Homo sapiens: one gene and its partners. The protein of the gene in region 1 purifies or fractionates together with the protein of each later gene. This does not show direct contact. Each region holds a gene or a part of one and is shown on either strand. Other genes may lie near its edges. The genes, in order: NFX1, HNRNPM, PRRC2C, RBM5, RRP12, RPL22 and EIF3B.

Region 1 (3,500 bases):
ATGGGGCTAAGTAACTTTCCTGAAGTTAAAATAAGTGATAAGTGACTTAAACCCATGTCTTCCAGGTCTTACCAATTTATAGTATATTCTGTATGCTACACATAGTTCTGACTTTGCTACTAATTTTATGTCCTTAGGCAAACCATTTTGTCTTTGTGCTTCAGGGACTGAATTGACTGTACCAAGAAGCATCTTCTGGGGGAACATGAGTGGGTTGAAGGGGAGTATGCTTAATTTTTTCCACTTTGGGATTGTAGACCAGATTATAGAGGTTATGTATGGAAAACCCAAAATATATTCCTAGGGGAAAGAGATGAAAACTAATACACTTATTAAGTACTATCTATGAAATCATATTTAAATTTCTCAGTAACCGTTGAAATAAGTATTGTCATCCTTTACCATAGACAAGGAAACTAAGGCTAAAAGCAGGCACGTGATATCCCTAAGTTCATACAATAAGTTGGACAGGTGGACTTTAACCCATTTTGGCTTAGTCCAAAGCCTGTTTACTTGATATTACACAATGCTACTTTACTGTTTTGAAAGAAGACCACATGGAACCTGATGATTGATACCCCTGAACTGTTAGCTGGCCTTAAATTTTTGTAATAAAATGAATAGATGTATACATAGTACTTTATGGCCCAGGTGAGCATTTTTACTCGACAACACTTAGCTGTCATTGGCTATTGGTGTTTGGTTTTTGGACATGGAATAATGATTGATTAGTCCTCCACAAGCACCTTGAACCCATCACCTTCACTGGAAACATAGTTCTTACTTAACAGCATGTTTTATACAAAGTTCTAAGGAAAGTAATTTTTAGATTTGGCTTGGAGTCTATGAGTTTCATGGATGAAGTTTAATCTCTTTACTGGCATGTCTATTTTTTATGTCCTAGGTACTTTTAAATTCAATACAGATGCTGCTGAATTCATTCCTCAGGAGAAAAAAAATTCTGGTCTAAATTGTGGGACTCAAAGGAGACTAGACTCTAATAGGATTGGTAGAAGAAATTACAGTTCACCACCTCCCTGTCACCTTTCCAGGCAGGTCCCTTATGATGAAATCTCTGCTGTTCATCAGCATAGTTATCATCCGTCAGGAAGCAAACCTAAGAGTCAGCAGACGTCTTTCCAGTCCTCTCCTTGTAATAAATCGCCCAAGAGCCATGGCCTTCAGAATCAACCTTGGCAGAAATTGAGGAATGAGAAGCACCATATCAGAGTCAAGAAAGCACAGAGTCTTGCTGAGCAGACCTCAGATACAGCTGGATTAGAGAGCTCGACCAGATCAGAGAGTGGGACAGACCTCAGAGAGCATAGTCCTTCTGAGAGTGAGAAGGAAGTTGTGGGTGCAGATCCCAGGGGAGCAAAACCCAAAAAAGCAACACAGTTTGTATACAGCTATGGTAGAGGACCAAAAGTCAAGGGGAAACTCAAATGTGAATGGAGTAACCGAACAACTCCAAAACCGGAGGATGCTGGACCCGAAAGTACCAAACCTGTGGGGGTTTTCCACCCTGACTCTTCAGAGGCATCCTCTAGAAAAGGAGTATTGGATGGGTATGGAGCCAGACGAAATGAGCAGAGAAGATACCCACAGAAAAGGCCTCCCTGGGAAGTGGAGGGGGCCAGGCCACGACCAGGCAGAAATCCACCAAAACAGGAGGGCCACCGACATACAAACGCAGGACACAGAAACAACATGGGCCCCATTCCAAAGGATGACCTCAATGAAAGACCAGCAAAATCTACCTGTGACAGTGAGAACTTGGCAGTCATCAACAAGTCTTCCAGGAGGGTTGACCAAGAGAAATGCACTGTACGGAGGCAGGATCCTCAAGTAGTATCTCCTTTCTCCCGAGGCAAACAGAACCATGTGCTAAAGAATGTGGAAACGCACACAGGTAAACCTACCTAGATAGGAAATATTTTGTTGTCTTTTTAATTTAAATTTTTAAATAAGTCATATATTCACATAATTTAGAAAGCAGAAAGTATGGAAAGTTACACTGTAAAAAGTCTCAATCTTTATTCACTGTCTGCCTAAGTTCTACCACCACTCGCTGCTCCCTGCCCCAATAGGTAACCACTTAGTTTTATGCATATCACAAGCAAATACAAATAAGAATTCTTTTTCTTTTCCAAATGAGGAATTTTGTAAGGGTTTTCAAAAATGCAAATACGGGTGGTGTAGATGTCTGGTTACAAGATTTTTTTTGAGTTGTGAAAACAAGTGGTGGGTGGTAACATCTCTGCTGCCTCTTTTGGTTTCATCCTGCATCATCTAATCTGCCTCATCTGGTCTGCTTAGTTGCAGCAGTTCCTAACTGGTCTTATCATCTCTTAATTTCTCTCTTTCAGTTCACCTCTTAAACCAGCATCAGAGAGCAATCTTTATAAAACACATATTTTATTTATTTGTTTTTTTGAGAGGAGTCTCACTGTTGCCCAGGCTAGAGTGCAGTGGTGCGATCCCAGCTCACTGCAACTCCTCCTGGGTTCAGATGATTCTCCTGCATCAGCCTCCCGAGTAGCTGGGATTACAGGCGCCCGCCACCATGCTTGGCTGATTTTTGTATTTTTAGTAGAAATGGGGTTTCACCATGTTGGCCAGGCTAGTCTCAAACTTCTGACCTCGGGTGATCCGCCTCGGCTTCCCAAAGTGCTGAGATTACAGGCGTGAGCCACTGCGCCCTGCCTAAAACACACATTAAACTGTGTCACTCCTCTGCTTAATTCCGTTTACTGCTTCTGCCTTACTCAACAGTCCCATCTTCTGCTGCCTCAATATCTACCACATTTTATTCCCTGGATTCTACACTTTTTTGTCTTTGCATGGTGTTGCATGTGGCTCCCTCTCTTTAGAATTTCTGTCACTCAGTTCGCTGACGAAGTCTTACTCATTTTTCAAAAGCTACTTTAGGCCAGGCATGGTGGCTCACACCTGTAATTCCTGCACTTGGGGAGGCTGAGGTGAGAGGATCACTTGAACACAGGTGTTCAAGACCAGCCTGGGCAACATAAGGAGACCCTGTCACTACAAAAGAATTAAAATAAAAAAATTAGCCAGGCATGTTAGCACATGCCTGTAGTCCCAGACACTCAGGAAGCTGAAGTGAGAGGATCACTTGAGCCCAGGAGATCGAGGCTGCAGTGAGCTATTGTACTCCAGCCTGGATAACAGAGCAAGACCCTGTTTTGCGGGGGGAAAAAAGTTACTTTAGTCACATGTCCAGGGAACCTTTTCTCACCTTTATAGATAGCGTTAATCTCTTACAGCCCTCACGCTTATGTCTTTCTCTTAAATTTGCATGCTTCTATTACAGAACTTACACTGGAAACCATAATTTATTTATGCTTCATTGTCCTCCACTAGTCTGTAAGCTCCTTAAAAACAGACACTGTATATTTCTTTTCTTTTTTTGTGACCCTGCTGCCCCACACAGCTCTTGAAACATAGTAGGTACTCAGTTCTGACCATTAAAAAGTTCA
Region 2 (3,500 bases), on another chromosome or scaffold:
GACTAATGTTGGTTTTGAATTAAGACATTCAAACTCAAGGCTCCACAGGGCAGAAAGCATTCCCAAGGAAAGGTACACCTTCCTGGGCTCACAAAATACTCCTACGGACAGTAACAGAGACAATGGTGAGGCCAACTCCCTGACCAAGGTGTGTTAATTCCAAGACAGAAACAGGAGAAGAGAGGGATGATTTCTAAGACTTCATAGAATGGAAATATGAGGTAGTACACATAGGCCCATCCAATTTTAGCTTCACAAATAAGTGTCTTTCATAGTGTTAAAAAAAAAAAGGGGGGGGGGGCATAAAATGATGCAGCCGCCATGGAAAAGTTAGGTAGTCACTCAAAATTAAACACAGAATTACTATGACCCAGCAATTCCACTGCTAGGTATACACCCAAAAGAATTAAAAGCAGGGACTCATACACATATGCCAATGTTCATAGCAGCACTACTCACACAAGCCAAAAGGTAGAAACAACCAAGTGTCTACCAATAGATGAATGGAATAAACAAAACACGGACTATCCATGCAATGGGATATTATTCAGCCACAAAAAGGAAGGAAATCCTGACAAAGGCTACAACATGCATGAACCTTGAGGGCATTATGCTCAGTGAAATAAGCCAGTCACTGAAGGCCAAATATTGTATGATTCCACTTATTAAATACCTATAATAAGCAAATCCATACACAGAAAGTAGAACAGAGGTTACCTGGGCCTAGGGGGAGGTAGAAATGGGAAGTTATTAAATACTGAGCATAGAATTTCATGTGGGATGAGAATAAAAGTTCCAGGAATGTGCAGATTGCTGCAAAACATCATACTTCACTGCACACTTAAGATGGTTAAAATGGTCTATTTTATGTATATTTTAACCACTTTTTAAAAATCCAGAAAGGTGGAAAAGAAACCACTCCCTACACAATCCTACTACTTTGAAGCTGGGAAACTTGGGTCTGAGCAACCCTGGGAGGTGGAAGACAGCATGCAGACAATCCCACCTTTGGCAAAGAAGGGTGGCTGCTTTTCTGGCACGGCCTTCCCATTGCACTCTTTACCTTTGTGTGCTAGGTGCCACCACACTGTTAACACTAACCATCTCTAGGTAGCAGCCATCAGGCTTGGAAGCCCGGGCACTGGCTGACAGGGCGCTTTCCTCAGCTGCCAGCTCAAGCGCAACCCCTCTGACTACAGGGAGGCACAGATTAGAGCTGATCAGGAACAAGTGAGGAGCCAGAAGCCACCTCAAGTTTCTTAAGCAACTGAGCCTTGCACCTTCTGCTTCCCCAGCCCTGTGTGTCCCGCCAGTGAGAATCCAGTGACTCCCAGACCACGGGCTCTACTACAGAATTTGTAATCCATGACAAAACCGGAAAAAAAACCAAAAAGCCAAGACTACAGTATTAATGATTTATAAAAGTATCTTTAACTGAAGAGCCGATCTTTATTCTGGGATGTAACTTTCTTCCGTGGAAGAAACACCAGATAGTAGCTGGAGAAGCTACTATTTTAAAATGTTATTTAGTTGAGGCCAGGTGTGGTAACTCCCATCTGTAATCCCAGCACTTTGGGAGGCTCAGGCAGGTGTATCACTTGAGGTCAGGAGTTCAAGACCAGCCTGGCCAACATGCTGAAACTCCATCTCTACTAAAAATACAAAAATTAGCTGGGCGTGGTGGCACATGCCTGCAATCCCACCTCTCAGGAGGCTGAGGCAGGAGAATCGCTTGAACCCGGGGGGCGGAGGTTGCAGTGAGCTGAGACCGCACCACTGCACTCCAGCCTGAGTGACATAATGAGACTCTGTCTCCAAACAAACAAACAAAAGTATTCACTTGAGACCAGGTATGGTGGCTCACACCTATAATCCCAGCACTTTGGGAGGTCAAGGCAGGAGAATCTTACTTAAACCCAAGAGTTCGACAAATAAGACCCTGTCTTTATTTTTAAAAATAATAATAATTATCTGAGTGTGGTGTTGTGCACCTGTAGTCCCAGCTACTCAGGAGGCTGAGCTGAGAGGATGGCTCCAGTCCAGGAGGTCAAGATTGCAGTGAACTATGATTGCACCACTGCACTCCAGCCTGGTTGACAAAGCAAGACCCTGTCTCAAAAATAGTAACGTATTTACTTGGAAAAATTTTAAAGTCAGCAACTTTGTGTAGTCCCCAAACACAAGAGTGCCAAGTGGTATCCCAGCAGAGGTATCACTGGTGTGAGCCACACCCAAATCAACACAAGGTAAAACCAAGGAAAGCAGCTTCCTCTGTGATCTCTCAACTATACCAATACACAATCAACAGGCTTCCCTTCCCACGGGCTGGCAGATAAGGTGATGTTATGGCAGCTCCAATCCCTAGATGCCTAGAACGCAATCTACCTGAGTCCACAAGACTGGCTTCACACCACAAAGCAGGTCCCACAGGAGACCTACAACTGTTACCCAGGCCACTTGTCTACTCCAAAAGAAAGTCCTTCACCAAAGTCTGCCAAACAAAATCTATCTGCCAAATCATCTCCTACTCTTTCCTGGAAAATGACGACGACTGTGTTAGAAAAAATCATAAAACATAACAGAATCTACACATCATGGTCCACCAGAGGATTCACAGATGGAAATGAATTTTAATATTGTTACTTTTGAAGTCCCAAATACTTTAAGATTTACAATAAAAAACATTCTGACAGAGTCCATGATGAATTATTTCCAGTCTTTCACCAGACTGCTTAAGCTCACCTATAAACTACGAAATGTATAAATAAATAATTACAGCCAAAGCAGGTAACAAAGTGTCTAACCTATATTCCACAGGTGCATACCATGGCTACGAATAAACTATCCAATCTAACCACAGAAGCTGAGCATTTGGTTTGGGGTTAATCCACATCACATGACTCACCATTGAGAAAGCGGCTCTCACCATGCTTAATGGGCACAGCACCTCTGCAAACAAATCCTTCCCTGGCTAATCATTCCCTCTGAGAGGTTTCCTCAGTAAAGAGATTAGAACTATCTCTTGTCATTTCCAACTTTTAAAAAATTGACCTTTTTGGAAATCTACCACCACCAACTAATTCTTGACAGACTTGTAGAGAATGACCCTCAAAGAAATATCATTCGAGACACATATTCAAGCAGACTGGCCATGGTGGCTCATGCCTGCAGTCCCAGCAGTTTGGGAGGCTGAGGTGAGCTGAGTGCTTGAATCCAGGAGTCTTGAGACCAGCCTGGGTAACATGGCAAAACCGTGTCCCTACAAAAAAAATACAAAAAATTAGCCAGGTATGTTGGTGCACAACTGCGGTCCCAGCTATGCAGAAAGAAGACAGTCTGGCTCCAGGAGGTCAAGGGTACAGTAAGCCATGATTGCACCACTACACTCCAGCCGGGGGTAACAGCGGGAGACCCTGTCTCGGCAAGGGAAGGGGAAGGGGAAGGGGAGGGACATATTCAAGTTTAGATGATGTGATAGTATAAAAGTGATGTCCTGAAAA
Region 3 (3,500 bases), on another chromosome or scaffold:
GGATGTGTTCTATGTATTTTATTTTATTTTATTTTATTTTATTTTATTTTATTTTATTTTATTTTATTTTGAGACAGAGTCTCGCTCTGTCGCCAGGCTGGAGTGCAGTGGCAGGATCTCGGCTCACTGCAACCTCCCCCTCCTGGGTCCAAGTGATTCTCATGCCTCAGCCTCCCAAGTAGCTGAGACTACAGGCACATGCCACCACATGCAGCTAATTTTCGTATTTTTTTTTTTTAGTAGAGACAGGGTTTCACCATGTTGGCCAGGATGGTCTCGATCTCTTGACCTCGTGATCTGCCCGCCTTGGCCTTCCAAAGTGCTGGGATTACAGGCATGAGCCACTGCACCTGGCCGATGTGTTCTGTTTGAAATCTTACTCAAAAGTATTTGAAGAGTTGTGTATAGTTGTATGGATATGTCTGTAGTAAACAGAAACAAATTGCTTCAGTTTCTCTTTACTTATTTTCTAGGTTACAGTACCTTTACCAGCATCGCAGCTTTCCTTGCCTAATTTTGGATCTACAGGGCAACCTCTAATTGCTTTGCCTCAGACTCTTCAGCCCCCATTACAGCATACCACTCCCCAAGCACAGGCTCAGAGTCTGAGTCGTCCTGCACAAGTAAGCCAGCCTTTCAGAGGATTAATTCCTGCTGGAACACAGCATAGCATGATTGCAACCACAGGAAAAGTAAGTAAAGAGACATTTGCACAGGTTATTTGAGAATTTAAGGTAGTGTGTTCAGATATATGCATCTGTGTTATCTAAAAAACTAAAATGCGTCAGTTTTTACCACCCTGCAAAAATCTCAAACCCCAGTATATTTACATTTTATCTATTTACTTTTAATGTGTTTGGCCCCATCTAGTTTTTACCTAATAACAAAGAATTCACAAATTTATTGGAAGAATTGGATTTATAGTGTCTCTTGGGCTTATTTAATTATAAGTCTGTTTGGTCAGGTAATTCCATAATACTTGAAGCCTAACTATAGGAGTTTTGTACTAAGGTTCTTTGCCCTTTCCTAGATTACGTCTTCACGTATAGGACATGTAAACACAGCACTTAGCTTGTGGAATTAAAGAAATGTTAAGTTTATTTTATGCTTCTCCTCAGATGTCTGAAATGGAACTAAAAGCCTTTGGAAGTGGCATTGATATAAAACCAGGCACACCTCCAATCGCTGGTAGAAGCACCACACCAACATCTAGTCCCTTCCGGTAAAATGGGCATTTAAATTTGCTTATGAAATTCCAATTTGGTCACTATTTGTTAAATACTTATCAGTCCTGTGTGACATAATCCCTTTTCCAAGCAGAAAAGGAATTATTAAGACATTCTTTTTGATAGTTTTGTCTAAAATGTTAAGCTTTTAAATTATTTAAAATGTGTTTATTGTACTATATTTTAAGTAAATTCTTTTGTTACAGAGCAAACCTTTTTTTCTTTTATTTTTTTTGAGACAGAGTCTCACACTGTTACCCAGACTAGAGTGCAGTGCCATGATTATAGCTCACTGCAACCTCAAACACCTGGGCTCAAGCAAGCCTCCTGCCTCAGCCTCCTGAGTAGCTGGGACTACATACACGTGCCACCACACCTGGCTAATTTTTAAAAAAATATTGTCCAAGCTGGTCTCGAACCAGCCAATCTAACTGGTAACTGGTATCCTTTCTTACCTCTGCTCCTCCAATGTCTCTCTTCTACCAGAATGTTTTGGTAATCATCATAGTAAATTTTTACCAACTACCAAGTATGATGAAAATACCAAGAACGGTGTTTGCAAAAATCTAACAGCATTATTTACTTGGTATTACTATACTGACTAGTAATGGCTTCTTTCCAAGGGCTACTTCTACAAGTCCGAACAGCCAGTCCAGCAAAATGAACAGCATTGTCTACCAGAAGCAGTTCCAGTCAGCCCCTGCCACTGTGAGAATGACACAACCATTTCCTACACAGTTTGCACCCCAGGTGGGCAGACATAATTAAGAAATGAGTATTATTTACTTAAAAATAGTTGCTAATCTGATAAATTATTATCTTGCCTTATGTTAACCAGTTAAGAAGTACAGTTTTTAATAAAAAATTGTTTCTGAATTTAACAATAAATTTATTTTATAAAGATAGTCTGCGATTTATAGCCAGACATGGTAATTGTTTAGTTCTAAAGCAGACAAGAGAAATAGTTAAAAGATTCCCCACACAGCTCTGATAATGAGTCCTTTTCCTTTTAACTTTTTTTAAGGAGTTGACTTTTCAGCGAAGGGTCCCAGTGCTTGAAGTTTTCTAGGTTTAAAGTTGTTTTTTGTTGTTGTTAAGATATTTATGTGCAATTGAGATAAAATTTCCAAAAAGATGTTTTAATATATGTAAAAAATGTTGGCTTCTCTTCCCCTTGCTGATCGTATAAAAGGACTAAGAACTCTCACAAACTAGAACTGGTTCCTGAGAAATTCACATTTGTTGAATTAGTATTGATTTTATTTATCTTCAGATTACATTTGTTACAGGTGTGTGCCTTTTCTGCAACTACCTTTTGAAAAGATAGCCTAATTAAAAGTCTTTCTATCCCCCCTTCAGAATTTACAACTGAGATGCTAGGACCAACTGAAGTGCCATAGCATGCTTTGCCTAGTTTTTCTGTTAAACTCTCCAAGCATGGCCTGTTTATTCCTTGTCCTTGTTAATGGAATGGCACAATCTGTACACTTCCTTTCACTGGTAGGATGGGCACAGATTTACTCTGGGATGAGCCAACCTGGTCTAGTTGGCAGTTTTTTTTTTTTTTTTTTTTTTAACAGTTCAATGTTGTATGTTTTGTTTTTTTCACTCAGATTCTCTCCCAGCCTAACCTGGTCCCTCCATTGGTAAGAGCCCCACATACTAACACCTTCCCAGCGCCTGTTCAGAGGCCACCAATGGCACTGGCCAGTCAGATGCCTCCTCCGCTGACCACAGGCCTCATGAGCCATGCTCGTTTGCCACATGTAGCCAGGGGTCCTTGTGGATCACTATCTGGAGTCAGAGGTAATCAGGCCCAGGCTGCGTTGAAGGCTGAACAAGACATGAAGGTTAGTACAGTGTTAACAGCCAACAGATCAAGAATCTGTCTCTGAACCATGTCTTAAAATGCCTCTGGACCCATAACTGTATATCCAGGCATTCATTGTCTTAGCAGACTTAACCAAGCTAACTACTTTTATTCATTCCCCCTTTTTTTTCTTTTTTTTCCCCCATTCCCATTCCTTTCATCTTTTTTTTCTTTTTGTTTCTTTTTCTTTTTCTTTTTTTTTGCAACTGTAGTCAGGAAATGAATTAATGTCTTAAACTGTGGCCAAATGAATTGTTATCAAATAAATATTTGAGGGAGATCTGAGTTTAGATGCACACTTTTTTTTGGAATAGCAAAGAAGTAATATCAATTATTATAGACTTCCCCATTTTCTTTCTTTTTTTTTTTTTTTTTAATATATATTTTCTTCCCCCCTTTCCCCT
Region 4 (3,500 bases), on another chromosome or scaffold:
CTCCATCCTTTAGTCTAATCTCCCTGTCCTTTGTTCTGCAGGATAGTACAGTGGCTCAAGCCTATAATCCTAGCGCTTTGGGAAGATGAGGCAAGATGAGCGCTTGAGCACAGGAGTGTGAGACCAGCCTGGGGAACACAGTAAGACCCCATCTGTATACAAAAATTTTAAAAATTAGGCCTCGCATAGTGGCTCACGCCTGTAATTCCAGCACTTTGGGGGGCCAAGGCAGGTGGATCACGAGGTCAAGAGATGGAGACCATCCTGGCTAACACAGTGAAATCCCGTCTCTACTAAAAATACAAAAAATCAGCCAGACGTGGTGGCACGTGCCTGTAGTCCTAGCTACTTGGGAGGCTGAGGCAAGAGAATCGCTTGACCCCGGGAGGCGGAGGTTGCAGTGAGCCGAGATCGCGCCACTGCACTCCAGCCTGGGCAAGAGTGAGACTCCGTCTCAAAAAAAAATAATAAAATAAAATAAAAATTACCCAAGCATGATGGTATACACCTGTAGTCCTAGTTACCTGGGAGGCTGAGGTGGGAGGACTGTTTAAGCCCAGGAGTTCGAGGTTACAATGGGCTATTGCACCACTGCACTCCAGCCTGGGTGACAAAGTGCAACCCTATCTTTAAAAAAATAAAAAAATAAAAATAAGGACTCAGATGAGATTTAAAAGAGGCAGTGGATGCGTCACTGTGCCCTGAAGTACGCCTAATCAAGAATAGCCTTCCTGCTCTTTGAGGCCTACTCTCAAAATAAGGAAAAAAATCAACAGCCAAAAAATGAAGAGCCTGATGATAAACTTTTTTTTAAATTTTTTTGAGATGGAGTCTCACTCTGTTGCCCAGGCTGGAGAGCAATGGCATGATCTCGGCTCACTGCAACCTCCGCCTCCTGGGTTCAAGCAATTCTGCCTCAGCCTCAAGAGTAGCTGGGACTACAGGCGCATGTCGCCACACCCAGCTAATATTTTATATTTTAGTAGAGAGGGGTTTCACCATGTTGCCCAGGCTGGTCTCCATCTCTTGGGCTCAGGTAATCCACCCACCTTGGCCTCCCAAAGTGCTGGGATTACAGGCGTGAGCCACCGCACCAGGCCAGGTAAACATTTTTAATGGATCATACTTTTCTTACAGTTAAATTATTGGTAAAAATTTTCAAAGTTCATCACATTCTTAGGCTCCTAATAAATCAAACATTAATTGGGGCTAGAATAAAGTATTCTGGCTGGTAGGCTTGTTCCAATGTCAGACCAACTCCTTTTTCCAAAAGGCCACAAAAATATACTAGTCTCTTCATCAATAATATCAGGCATGAATACTACCATGAAAAAAAAAACAGGGTGAAATTTGTGGAAACAAGATTCTCACTGGCCTCTACTTTCCATAACTAGGTGCAACGGCTGCAAGACTACACACAGCCAATCCTCATTATCCTCAGGTATCACACCTGTGAATTCAACCACTCATTAAAATTTCTAACACTCAAATCAATACTTGTAGCAGTTTCTTTTTTTTTTTTTTTGAGACAGTCTTGCTCTGTCGCCCAGGCTGGAGTGCAATGGCACGATCTCGGCTCACTGCAAGCTCCGCCTCTCAGATTCATGCCATTCTCCTGCCTCAGCCTCCTGAGTAACTGGGACTACAGGCGCCCGCCACCACGGCTGGCTAATTTTTTTGTAGTTTTAGTAGAGACAGGGTTTCACCGTGCTAGCCAGGATGGTCTCGATCTCCTGACCTTGTGATCCGCCTGCCTCAGAATCCTAAAGTGCTGGGATTACAGGCGTGAGCCACCGCACCTGGCCAACCCTCAGTAATATTCTTTTAGGCTTAGCTAGACTTTTGAGAACTCTAGCCCCTAGCCACAATAGCACTTTGCCACTCATCCCTCTCCTGCCAAAAGCCTCTGACTCCAGCCAAATCAAGCCGATTGCTAGGCCTTATCTAGATTCAGTACCTTTCTATTCCCTGCTCATGTGATACCCCTCCGCCTGAAGGGCCCATCTACCACACCATTCCCTTAGTTTTCCACGCCTATAATCCTAGCACTTTGGGAGACCCAGGCGGGAGGATTGATTGAAGACAAGAGTTCAAGACCAGTCTAGGCAATAAAGAGAGACCTTGTCTCTACAAAAAAAAAAACAAACGATAAAAAAAAAAATTAGCTCGGAGTGGTGACACATGCCTGTAATCCCAGCTACTTGGGAGGCTGAGGCTGGTGGATTGCCTGAGCCCCAAAAGTTGGAGGCTGCTGTGAGCCACAATCACGCGATTGCACTCCAGCCTATGCGACAGAGTAAGGCCCTGTCTCACAAAAATAAAAATAGAAGATTCCTTACCCTCCACTAGTAACAATTTCCTTTAAATAACCTTCAAGAGCTCTTAGGCAGACCTCTTTCAATAGGACCTTTTCCGACATGACCCTCTTTTTGAGACAGGGTCTTGCTCTGTCGCTCAGGCTGGAGTGCAGTGGCGTGAACACAACTCACTGTACCCTTGACCTCCTAGGCTCAAGTGATCTTCCTGCCTCAGTCTCCCAAGTAACTGGGACCACAGACAAGCGCCATTAAGACTGGCTATTTTTTTTTTTTTTTGGAGAGATGCGTCTTACCATGTTGTCCAGGTTGGACTTGAACTCCTGGGCTCAAGCACTCTTTTCACCTTGGCCTCCCGAAGTGCTGGGATTACAGGCATGAGTTACCATACTCGGCCTCTGACCCCTTTCTATTCTGCATTGTCACCATTATCTGCTGACCTTAGCTACTCATCCATAAGCTTTTTTGAGGCAAGATCCATAGCTCTGTGTCACTGTAGCATCTAACATGTACAGTGTAGCAGATGTGCAGTGGATCACAAATAATGGAATGATTACCCACTATTAACTCTAATATCCTGTCTCACATTTGTCACATTCATTACTTCCAGGGTTTAGAAACCCAAAGCTACGGGAATCCAATGCTTATTTTGAGCTTTATCCAAAATTCAACTAAACATTAGTCAGAATATTACTTTGATTACTCCAAGAAAACAAATACTGGCACACTGCTGTTTTAAAACCTCACATTCATTTTTACCAAGAGCACTGGCTGAGTAACATACTGTGTTCAAGGGTTGGGGACACAGAGGTGACTAGTTCACACAGAGGCCTATTTTCAGAGATCTTGTGGTAGAGATGAGACATGTGTGTTGATGGCTACAGTAAAGGTGCTACACAAAAGTCATGAATACAGTGCCTTAGGAAGAGAATAACGAAGAAGAAGCTCTGCCCGATAGATCAGGCTTTACATACAGGCGTCTCCAAGCAGAAAAAGGCACAACAGTAGAGCAATGGACATGTCCAAAGTCCAGGATGTGGAAAGTAGGGTGTGGCTGGAAGGAAGGGTGAGGACCAGAGATGCTGCTGGAAATCAGGCAGTGCCAAGTACACTAAGACTCTAATTGGCCAGTCTGAATGAGCCGTCCTTTTTAACAAGCTTTTCTGAGGTTTCAAATGGGTAGTT
Region 5 (3,500 bases), on another chromosome or scaffold:
TCTGGCCCTCAGCCCCCCTACCTGGTGGGTCCTTCCTGCTTGACCCACGTTGGTCTCTGTCCCCAGAGGCCCTGCAGTGCTACCTCGTCCTGATCTACCCTGGCCTGGTGGGCGCGGTGACCATGGTCAGCTGCAGCATCCTGGCCCTGACCCACCTCCTTTTCGAGTTTAAAGGTAAATGCTTATTTCCTAGAAGGCCTGAGAAGCCCTCAGATTAGGAAGATGCCCAAAAGGTCAGGATAAAGTGGCTCCTGGAACTGGGAAAAGGTGCCTGGAGGAAGTAAGAAAAGCCACACCCAGCCCAGTTTGCCTCCCTGTCTCCCTTCCTGCGGGTCGCTGCCTCCCGCCCTTGCGGCTATGCCAAGGCACCTTCCTCAGGTCTGTCCCCACGTGTGACTGTGCAGTCCAGTGGCCCTGCATCCCATTGTCAGAGTGGTTAGGAGGTGGTTAGGGCTGATGCCTGGATTTTAGTCCTAGTCCTGCCTCTTGGCAACCACATGAGACCTAGAACAGCTTGATTAGCCTCTTAGCACCTCAGTTTCTTATCTCTAAAATGGAAGCAAGAAATAGCACCCACCTCAGGGTGACGAAAGGACCCAAGACCACTCCATGGAGCGTGATTGGAACCATCCCGGGCATACGGAAAGGCTCTCAATGTCAGCTTTTACTGACACTTGAGTGGCTGTTTTCCAGTGGGGAAGGTTTGGGTCTGAGTGGGGTCCTGGGTGTCTTAGACAGTGACCCCCTCACTGCCACAGGTCTGATGGGGACCAGTACAGTGGAGCAGCTGCTGGAGAATGTGTGCCTGCTTCTGGCCTCCCGCACCCGTGACGTGGTCAAGTCTGCACTGGGCTTCATCAAGGTGGCAGTGACTGTCATGGACGTGGCGCACCTGGCCAAACATGTGCAGCTGGTGGTGAGTGTCCCCGTTCCCCTTAGCAGGTAGCAGGGTGGCCTCTGAGCTGTTGGCATGGACCTGGCAAGCTTCGAGGCCAGCAAGTTTCAAACTATTTTTTTTGTAGCCAGAGGTCATTAAGGAGCCCTAAAAGGGACCATAGGGGAATGCCTGTCAGGTGGAGGCGAGGAGGGGGCACACTGCCCAGGTGGCTTTCTTCACCCCAGAGCCCTACATGGAAAGCAACAGGGGCTCTTCAGGGCAAAGGCCCATGGGCAGGGCCACTCCTCATTTTACAGATGGAGAAACTGGGCCAGAGATTTTCCAGATCATGGGACTCAGACGCTGGGCTCTCCCTCCACAGGACCCCCTCATCTTGCCTTTTTTTTTTTCCCATCTTGCATTTTGACCTTGCTGGTTAGAGGCCATTCCTTTGGGTCCCCTGCTGGGCTGCAGAAGGATCTGAAGAGCCCCTTGGTATAGGGTCCCTGGCCCTCTCCTGCCCAAGAGAAGCCTTGCCCAGGCTGGCGTAGGCTTCCAGCCAAGCTGTGCACTGTACCTACTGCCTCAGTTTCCCATGTGTGACTGGCTTGAGTCACATCAGACCTCTGGGTCCCTCTTGCATATTTTCTTTGGGTCTGGCCTTGGGTTCAAGATAGGAAGGGACAGATGAGAATCAGCATGCCCTCCCGCTGCCCTCGGAGCCTGCAGCCTACTAGGGACCAAAGGTGGGGAGAACAGCTAGAGCAGTGATCCATCATGGAGTTATTCGAATTTATACAAGCCCTGGCCGGCTGCAGTGGCTCACACCTGTAACCCCACCACTTTGGGAGGCCAAGGCAGGCAGATCACTTGAGTTCAGGAGTTTGAGACCAGCCTGGCCAACATGGTGAAACCCCATCTCTACTAAAAATACAAAAATTAGCTGGGCGAGGTGGCAGGTGCCTGCAATCCCAGCTACTCGGGAGGCTGAGGCAGGAGAATCACTTGAACCTGGGAGGCGGATGTTGCAGTGAGCCAAGATTGCACCACTACACTCCAGCCTGGGTAACAGAGCAAGACTCTGTCTCAAAAAAAAGGGATTTATAGAAGCCCTTCCAAGAGTGGTTGGGGAGGCCAGGAGCGGTGGCTCACACCTATATTCCTAGCACTTTGGGATGCCAAGGTGGGTGGATCACTTGAGGTCAGGAATTCGAGACCAGCCTGGCCAACATGGTGAAGCCCCATCTCTACTAAAAAATACAAAAATTAGCCAGGCATGGTGGTGCGCGCCTGTAGTCCCAGCTGTTCATGTGGCTGAGGTGTGAGAATTGCTTGAACCTGGGAGGCGGAGGTTGCAGTGATCCGAGACCATGCCATTGCACTCCAGCCAGGGTGACAGAGCAAGACTCTGTCTCAAAAAAAAAAAAAAAAAAGCCAGGCACAGTGGCTCACACCTGTAATCCCAGTACTTTGGGAGGCCAAGGTGGGCGGATCGCCTGAGGTTGGGAGTTCAAGACCAGCCTGGCCAGTATGGTAAAACCCTGTCTGTACTAAAAATACAAAAATTAGCCAGGCGTGATAGCAGGCACCTGTAATCCCAGCTATTCAGGAAGCTGAGGCAGGAGAATTGCTTGAACCCAGGAGGTGGAGGTTGCAGTGAGCTGAGATCGTGCCATTGCACTCCAGCCTGGGCAACAGAGCGAGACTCCATCTCAAAAAAAAGGAGTAGACGTGGACCCTATCCCCTAGCCGGTTTGGGAGTCACTGGAGATAAGAAGATCTGCCACCTGCACATGTAACCCAAACTGGGCCAGATGAAGGCTTAAGAGGAATCCAGCCAGAGCAGAATGCAGTGAGATGGAAGGGACATAGGGGACCAAGAGAAATCTTGGGGTGCTAGGGGCAAAGCGGGAGCCGCAGCATTAGATGAGTCTGGGCTGAACTCCCACCTCTATGGCCATTTAGCAAACACTTTATCCTCTGTGCCGCCGTGTCCTCTTCTATAAATAGGGGGTGATAGCATGTATCTCAGGGGTAGTCCAAGGATTCAAGGAGAGGATATATGTCAAGTACCAAGTGCTGTTGAGAAGACTAAAGCTCTCATCCTGCGAGGGTGCTCAGGCCTGTGTCCTGAAGGAGGGTGCAGGGGAAAGATGGGGCCTGCCCACCCGAGGGAAGCATGACTGGGCCAGGGTGTGGGCCAGGAGCAGGGCCGCGCTAACCCTCCCCTCAGCTGGGCTTGATCATGCTGCGTCCCTGGGCTGGACAGCAGTAAAGGGGGCGCAGCATGGAAGGCTCGCCTCCCTGAAAGCCTGGTGCTCTGTCCGGCAGATGGAAGCCATTGGGAAGCTTTCAGATGACATGCGGCGGCACTTCCGCATGAAGCTTCGGAACCTGTTCACCAAGTTCATCCGCAAGTTTGGGTCTGTGCACTGAGCAGGGGCGGGGGTAGGGCAAGCGAGGGGCCGAGGATTTCCAGTCCTACCAGGGACACTACATCTGGGTCGTGCTGTCTGGCCAGTGCCTCTCACCAGCCCTTCCTTGCCACCTCCAGATTTGAGCTGGTGAAAAGGCTGTTGCCCGAGGAGTACCACAGAGTCCTGGTCAACATCCGGAAAGCTGA
Region 6 (3,500 bases), on another chromosome or scaffold:
TGTGTAGAAGTCTCCTAAATTTGCATTTGCTCTAAATTCTCCAGAAGGTTGAACTATTGCCAGGATCAGTATCATTACAACAAAAATAATTTTTAAACACAAAATAATTATGGTCACGAATTATCCAGAATGGAATTTAGGTAACCTCTTATAGTTTATTGCCTTTATGTAGATGCTGTTTGCATCTGTGTCCTTCAAGAAATCCCCTATTTCCTTAGTTCTTTCTCTATCCAGTGACTTCTGGCTTTTCTGTGGCCTCCTCTTTTTCAACTTTGGTGTCTTCCAGTTTGGTATTCACATGGTGGCCCTGTTCTGGCATTATTCCTGCCTCCCTCCCTCTGAGCCATTCCCTCAGCCCACTCATCTGTTTGTGTGATTGTCTTTCCTTCTGGAAGCCTCCTTAGGATAGAAAACTTAAGTCATTTATGAATCTTGAGATGCAGAATTCAAGATTTCTGACCTAATCACTCTGTGCCCCATCTATGGTTAATGTATACTTTTTGTTTATTTTATTTTATTTACTTTGTTTTTTGAGACCAAGTTTTGCTCTTGTTGCCCAGGCTGGAGTGCAATGGTGCAGTCTCGGCTCACCACAATCTCCGTTTCCCTGGTTCAAGCCATTCTGGTGTCTCAGCCTCCCGAGTAGCTGGGATTATAGGCGCCTGCCACCACGCCTGGCTAATTTTTGTATTATTAGTAGAGATGGGGTTCCTCCATGTTGGTCAGGCTGGTCTCGAACCCCTGACTTTAGGTGATCCACCCACCTCGGCCTCCCAAAGTGCTGGGATTACAGGCATGAGCCACTGCGCCTGGCCATTTTATTTTATTTTTATTTATTTATTTTTGAGGTGGAATCTCACTCTGTCACCCAGGCTGGAGTGCAATGGTGTGATCTTGGCTCACTGCAACCTCCACCTTCCAGGTTTAAGTGATTCTCTTTCTCAGCCTCCCGAGTAGCTGAGATTACAGGCGTGTGCCACCATGCCCACCTAATTTGTGTATTTTTGTGGTAGAGACGGCGCTTCACCATGTTGGCCAGGTTGGTCTTGAACTCCTGACCTCAGGTGATTTGCCAGCCTCGGCCTCCCAAAGTATCGGGATTACAAGCATGAACCGCTGTGCCCAGCCAAATTTTTTTTTTTTTTTTTTGAGACGGAGTCTTGCTCTTTGTCACCCAGGCTGGAGTGCAGTGGTGTGATCTCGGCTCACTGCAAGCTCCGCCTCCCATGTTCATGCCATTCTCCTGCCTCAGCCTCCCGAATAGCTGGGACTACAGGTGTCTGTCACTATGCCCGGCTAATTTTTTGTATTTTTAGTAGAGACAGAGTTTCACCGTGTTAGCCAGGATGGTCTCAATCTCCTGCCTTTGTGATCCGCCTGCCTCGGGCTCCCAAAGTGTTGGGATTACAGGCGTGAGCCACCGCGCCTGGCCCCAAATTTTTATTTATTTATTTATTTTGAGACGGAGTCTTGCTCTGTTGCCCAGGCTGGAATGCAGTGGCACGATCTTGGCTCACTGTAAGCTCCGCCTACCGTGTTCATGCCATTCTCCTGCCTCAGCCTCCCAAGTAGCTGGGAAACAGGCGCCCGCCACCACGCCTGGCTAATTTTCTGTATTTTTAGTAGAAACAGGGTTTCACCATGTTAGCCAGGATGGTCTCGATCTCCTGACCTCGTGATCTGCCCACCTCAGTCTCCCAAATTTTTATTTTTTGAGAAAGGGTCTGTTGTCCAGGCTGGAGGGCAGTAGCATGATCCTGGCTCACTGCAGCCTCAACCTCATAGGCCCAAGTGATCCTCCCACCTCAGCCTCTGGAATAGCTGGCACCACAGGCATGCACCACCATACCTAGCTAATTTTTAAATTTTTTTGTAGAGGAAGGGTCTTCCTAAGTTGCCCAGGCTCGTCTTGAACTCCTGGGCTTGAGCAATCTTCCTGCCTTGGCTTCCCAAAGTGCCGGGATTACAGGTGTGAGCTACTGCACCCAGCCAGTTAACATATTTTGTATTGGAGTTTTTAAACAGAAAATTATAGGAATTTTGAGCTGAAAGGGACTTCATGTCATTGCCATAGCAAGAAAACAACTAAAAAGGTCCTTTTTGGGCAAAGCTTTCTGAAGCACAAGGAGGTGAATGTCTTGCTGAGGCCCACACAGTAGTTTGCAGAGAATATCTCAGGCTCCTGAGTGGCTGCTGCTTCTGCTGTACCACACATGGCCCTGGACCAGGTCTAGAATTGTTTCAGTCCCTATGTCTTTGCTCTTTCTACTAGGTTGAAGGCTTATTTTCTGATAGTGCTGTGAACAGTGTTTTATACTCCTTAGATTCAGAAGTTGCTTTTAGCTTTGGTTGCATGTACCTTGTAAAAGTTTGTTTTATTTATTTATTTTTTGAGACAGGGTCTCTCTGTCCCCCAGGCTGGAGTGCAGTGGTGTGATCTCGGCTCACTGCAACCTCCGCCTCCTGGGCTCAAGGGATTCTCCTGTCTCAGCCTCCTGAGTAGCTGGGACTACAGGCACATGCCACCACACCCGGCTAATATTTGTATTTTTTGTAGAGAGAGGGTTTCGCCATGTTGCCTAGCCTGGTCTCAAATTCCTGAGCTCAGGAGATCCACCCACCTCAGCCTCTCAAAGTGCTGGGATTACAGGCGTATCTTGTAAAAGTCTGGCCTTGGGTTTCCTGTCTAGTGTTGTCCTTCTAAGCCTTTCGTGGCGAGGCCCAGTCGGCCTTGTGTGGAAGTAGTCAAGTACGTTTACACTGGGATGTTGTCTCATAGTATGTATGTAAATGGGATTTGTTACCATTTTTAAAAAAGACTGAACATTTAAGAAACCGATATTAGGGCCAGGTATGCTGGCTCACACCTGTAATCCCCACGCTTTGGGAGGCTGAGGTGGGAGGATCACTTGAGCCCAGGAATTTGAGACCAATCTAGCCAACATAGAGAGACCCCTTCTCTTAAAAATGTTAAGCCAGGCGCAGTGGCTCACGCCTGTAATCCCAGCACTTTGGGAGGCAGAGGTGGACGAATCACCTGAAGTCGGGAGTTGGAGACCAGCATGACCAACGTGGAGAAACCCCGTCTCTACTAAAAATACAAAATTAGCTGGGCCTGGTGGCGAATGCCTGTAATCCCAGCTACTTGGGAGGCGGAGCAGGAGAATCACTTGAACCTGGGAGGCGGAGGTTGCAGTGAGCCGAGATCGCGCCATTGCACTCCAGCCTGGGCAACAAGAGCTAAACTCCATCTCAAAAAAAAAAAAAAAAAATTGTAAAGTCAGCTGGGGCCAGGTGGGATGGCTCATGCCCGTAATCCTAGCACTTTGAGAGGCTGAGGTGGGAGGATCACTTGAGTCTGGGAGGTCGAGACTTGAGCTTGGGAGGTTGAGACTGCAGTGAGCTGTGATTGCGCTGGTGAGACTCTGTCTCCAAAACCAAAACAAAAAATGATATTAGTTCAGTGTTGGGAGACAGATAAAATATTCTGTTGAGACAGA
Region 7 (3,500 bases), on another chromosome or scaffold:
GAAGAGTCGGGGTTTCACCATGTTGGCCAGGCTGGTCTCGAACTCCTGACCTCAAGTGATCCGCCTGCCCGCCTCAGCCTCTCAAAGTGCAGGGATTACAGGTGTGAGCCACCGCGCCCGGCCTAAGGTGAGTTTGTTCTGGACACAAGGATGGAGGCTTGAGTCAGTGGGCAGCAAGGCTGCTCAGCATTGGGCCCGCCACCCTTGAGGCACCACTTCAGTGACCCCTTCCCGTGCCTAGAAATGAATTTTCAAGGCCAGAGCCTTGAGTCGGCTTCCTTCCATCTACCTCGTCTTTGATCTAGAAACTGAGGAGGGTGGGGTTTCCAGCCTTTTAAGGAAAAGAGGGGACTCTGCTTAGGTGAAAGGTTTTCCTGGTACTCTTCCATCCGAGGCAGGGTTTGGGGAGCCTTCGGCTCATTTTCACCAGCAAAGAATGGGCACGTTTTTATTTATCGCAAAACTTGGGACTGGTCAGTATCACGGCAGTGAACTTCCAACAATCCAAGGACATTGACGTTTCTTCTTTCGTTTTTACATTCTTGGGCAAAATTATGGCTTATAAAATGAAAAGACCAGGACGTTGGTTCTCAAAAAATGCAAAACAGCACATAGCGTGTATAAAGATGTTTTTCATGTAGGTGAGCTCAGGAGCCGTTCGTTACAGCAGCTCTTCTGTAGAGTAGTTGATAAAGTGGAGGGAGCTGCCCTTGTTCTTGCTCATTCCTTACACTTGATTTGCCATTTTCCCCATTTGCACCTTAATTAATCTTTAGATGACATGTAGCCAGATCCGTCAGCCTAAAACTTATTTGCCTCAAAGCAGCAGTGTGCGGTGTCTTAAGAGTGGGCTGACGGAGCCCAGGCTGGAGTCCATATGAGTCTGTGCGTGATGGTGGGGTTGCTAATATTCTGTCTGCATTCACTCCTTGTCACAGTGAGCACAGTAGTGCCACAGGGTCCTGGCGAGGACCTATGAAGCTGCGCGGCATGCCCAGAGCAGTGGCTGTGCAGAGGGAGCGCTCAGCGTCAGCTGTGACAGCATTGAGCTTCTATATAGCAAATGAGTTGTTCTATTCTCTTCTGCTTTTCAGTTTCGTCATCACTTGGTCTTTGCTTTAACATTTTATTTTCCTGTTCTGCAGAGACTTTTCTTGGTCTCCTGGTGGTAACATAATCGCCTTCTGGGTGCCTGAAGACAAAGATATTCCAGCCAGGGTAACCCTGATGCAGCTCCCTACCAGGCAAGAGATCCGAGTGAGGAACCTGTTCAATGTGGTGGACTGCAAGCTCCATTGGCAGAAGAACGGAGACTACTTGTGTGTGAAAGTAGATAGGACTCCGAAAGGCACCCAGGTATGTAGATTCCCACAGGAACTGACGATTCCTTATCCTGAGCTCTGAAGTGGCCACCGTATTGTTTGGAGGGTGTTAATGGATTTTTTTTTTTTTTTTTTTTTTTTTTTTTTGAGATGGAGTCTCACTCTGTCACCAGGCTGTAGTGCAGGAGTGCGATTTCGGCTCACTGCAGTCTCTGCCTCCTGGTTTCAAATGATTCTTCTGCCTCAGCTTCCCAAGTAGCTGGGACTATAGGCGTCCACCACCACGCTTGGCTAATTTTTGTATTTTTATTAGAGACAGGGTTTCACCATGTTGGCCAGGCTGGTCTTGAACTCCTGACCTTAGGTGATCTGCCCGCCTTGGCCACCCAAAGGGCTGGGATTACAGGCGTGAGCCACCGTGCCTGGCTGAGAATATTATTTTCTTTCTAAGCACAAGGAGTAGTATACTCAAGATTTATTTTTTTATTTTTTTATTTTTGGTGGTTGATCATTTAATATTTATTTTATCAAAAAATTGCCTGAGTTGGCTGGGTGTAGTGGCCCATGCCTGTAATCCCAGCACTTTGGGAGGCCGAGGTGGGCGGATCATGAGGTCAAGAGATTGAGACCATTCTGGCCAACGTGGTGTGAAACCCCATCTCTACTAAAAGTACAATAATTAGCTGGGCGTGGTGGGAGGCTCCTGTAGTCCCAGCTACTCGGGAGGCTGAGGCAGGAGAATCGCTTGAACCCAGGAGGCAGAGCTTGCAGTGAACAGAGCGAGATTGCGCCACTGCACCCCAGCCTGGCGACAGAGCCAGACTGCGTCTCACAAAAAAAAAGAAATTCCTGAGTTTTCCCTCTAATAGAAGTATTCTTCTTTCTTTTATGTTAAGAAAGCTTTAATTGACATGTAGTTCACATGCCTGAAAACACCCCTTTAGAGTGGTGAACTGGTTCAGTGGTTTTTCGTGTGTTCAGAGTTATGCAGCCACCACCACTCATTTCAGAACGTTTTCATCGGCTGGGTGCGGTGGCTCCCCCGGGGTGGGAGGGAGGATAGCTTGAGGCTAGGAGTTTCAGACCAGCCTGGGAAACACAGTGAGACCCCATCTCCACAGATAATTTTTAAAAGATAGGAAAAAGGCCGGGCACGGTGGCTCACGCCTGTAATCCCAGCACTTTGGGAGGCTGAGGCGGGGCATCACAAGGTCAGGAGATCGAGGGTTTAGTAGAAACCCCGTCTCTACTAAAAATGCAAAAAATTAGCCAGGCGTGGTGGCGGGTGCCTGTAGTCCCAGCTACTCGGGAGGCTGAGGCAGGAGAATGGCGTGAACCCGGGAGGCGGAGCTTGCAGTGAGCCGAGATTGCACCACTGCACTCCAGCCTGGGCAACAGAGTGAGACTCCGTCTCAAAAATAAATAAATAAATAAATGTTTTTGTCACCCTACAAAGAAACAACATACCTGTTAGCAGCCTCTCCGCCCAGCTCCTGGCATCACGAATGTCTATGATTTCCCTATTCTGAACACACAGCTGGAATCGGATACTATGCCACCTTCTGTGTTTGACCTCCTTCACGGAGCACAGCGTTCCCACAGCTGGTCCACGGTGCTGAGTGTCAGCAGTAATCTCTTGTTGGGTGGACCCCGTTTCTTGGCCTCCTTCCTCTGTTGATGGACATCAGGGCAGTTTTCCCTCAGACTCCTCGAGTAGGGCAGGACTTCTTGAAGGTTATGGCTACAGGACACCCCACTGTCTGAAGTGGTTTACCCAGCCCCATTGGTGTGCCTTTAGGGCCCTCAGGACCCTGGCCTGCAGCCTGCAGTGTGGACCCTGGGACTGCTTGTGCCCAAGTGTGGCGGGCAGGGCGGCTCCTGGAGGTGGGATCTGGGTCAGAGTTACTTCATGCATGTCCAGTGGCTTCCAGTAGACGTGGTGCCGGCAGTTCTCCAGCCTTAGAACCGTCTTCCATCCTGAGGGCTGTGGCTTTCATCACTGCACATGCTCGTGTGTGAACCAGGCATGCACACTGAATCTTTCATTGTGACGTTGATCTTTGATTTAAACCTTTTCTCATATTTTCACTGTCCAGAATGTCACCCCTTCCCCCTTTTTTTTAAACAGGGTGTTGTCACAAATTTTGAAATTTTCCGAATGAGGGAGAAACAGGTACC

The links.
Region 2: the proteins of NFX1 (region 1) and HNRNPM purify together in Homo sapiens (affinity purification with mass spectrometry, with the first as the bait; 2 studies listed by BioGRID). This does not show direct contact.
Region 3: the proteins of NFX1 (region 1) and PRRC2C purify together in Homo sapiens (affinity purification with mass spectrometry, with the first as the bait; one large-scale study listed by BioGRID). This does not show direct contact.
Region 4: the proteins of NFX1 (region 1) and RBM5 purify together in Homo sapiens (affinity purification with mass spectrometry, with the first as the bait; one large-scale study listed by BioGRID). This does not show direct contact.
Region 5: the proteins of NFX1 (region 1) and RRP12 purify together in Homo sapiens (affinity purification with mass spectrometry, with the first as the bait; one large-scale study listed by BioGRID). This does not show direct contact.
Region 6: the proteins of NFX1 (region 1) and RPL22 purify together in Homo sapiens (affinity purification with mass spectrometry, with the first as the bait; 2 studies listed by BioGRID). This does not show direct contact.
Region 7: the proteins of NFX1 (region 1) and EIF3B purify together in Homo sapiens (affinity purification with mass spectrometry; 2 studies listed by BioGRID and IntAct, with this or other methods). This does not show direct contact.

Annotation. Positions count from the first base shown.
Region 1 is NC_000009.12:33,293,516-33,297,015, forward strand, and holds part of NFX1 (transcriptional repressor NF-X1), read left to right. Parts: intron 1-904; coding exon 905-1,912; intron 1,913-3,500. UniProt on the Homo sapiens protein: Binds to the X-box motif of MHC class II genes and represses their expression. May play an important role in regulating the duration of an inflammatory response by limiting the period in which MHC class II molecules are induced by interferon-gamma.
Region 2 is NC_000019.10:8,451,475-8,454,974, reverse strand, and holds part of HNRNPM (heterogeneous nuclear ribonucleoprotein M), read right to left. Parts: intron 1-3,500. UniProt on the Homo sapiens protein: Pre-mRNA binding protein in vivo, binds avidly to poly(G) and poly(U) RNA homopolymers in vitro. Involved in splicing.
Region 3 is NC_000001.11:171,586,530-171,590,029, forward strand, and holds part of PRRC2C (protein PRRC2C), read left to right. Parts: intron 1-473; coding exon 474-692; intron 693-1,118; coding exon 1,119-1,222; intron 1,223-1,849; coding exon 1,850-1,976; intron 1,977-2,839; coding exon 2,840-3,076; intron 3,077-3,500. UniProt on the Homo sapiens protein: Required for efficient formation of stress granules.
Region 4 is NC_000003.12:50,095,419-50,098,918, reverse strand, and holds part of RBM5 (RNA-binding protein 5), read right to left. Parts: intron 1-3,500. UniProt on the Homo sapiens protein: Component of the spliceosome A complex. Binds to ssRNA containing the consensus sequence 5'-AGGUAA-3'. Regulates alternative splicing of a number of mRNAs.
Region 5 is NC_000010.11:97,366,841-97,370,340, reverse strand, and holds part of RRP12 (RRP12-like protein), read left to right. Parts: intron 1-66; coding exon 67-174; intron 175-758; coding exon 759-916; intron 917-3,208; coding exon 3,209-3,300; intron 3,301-3,431; coding exon 3,432-3,500.
Region 6 is NC_000001.11:6,193,096-6,196,595, reverse strand, and holds part of RPL22 (large ribosomal subunit protein eL22), read left to right. Parts: intron 1-3,500.
Region 7 is NC_000007.14:2,368,327-2,371,826, forward strand, and holds part of EIF3B (eukaryotic translation initiation factor 3 subunit B), read left to right. Parts: intron 1-1,145; coding exon 1,146-1,356; intron 1,357-3,450; coding exon 3,451-3,500.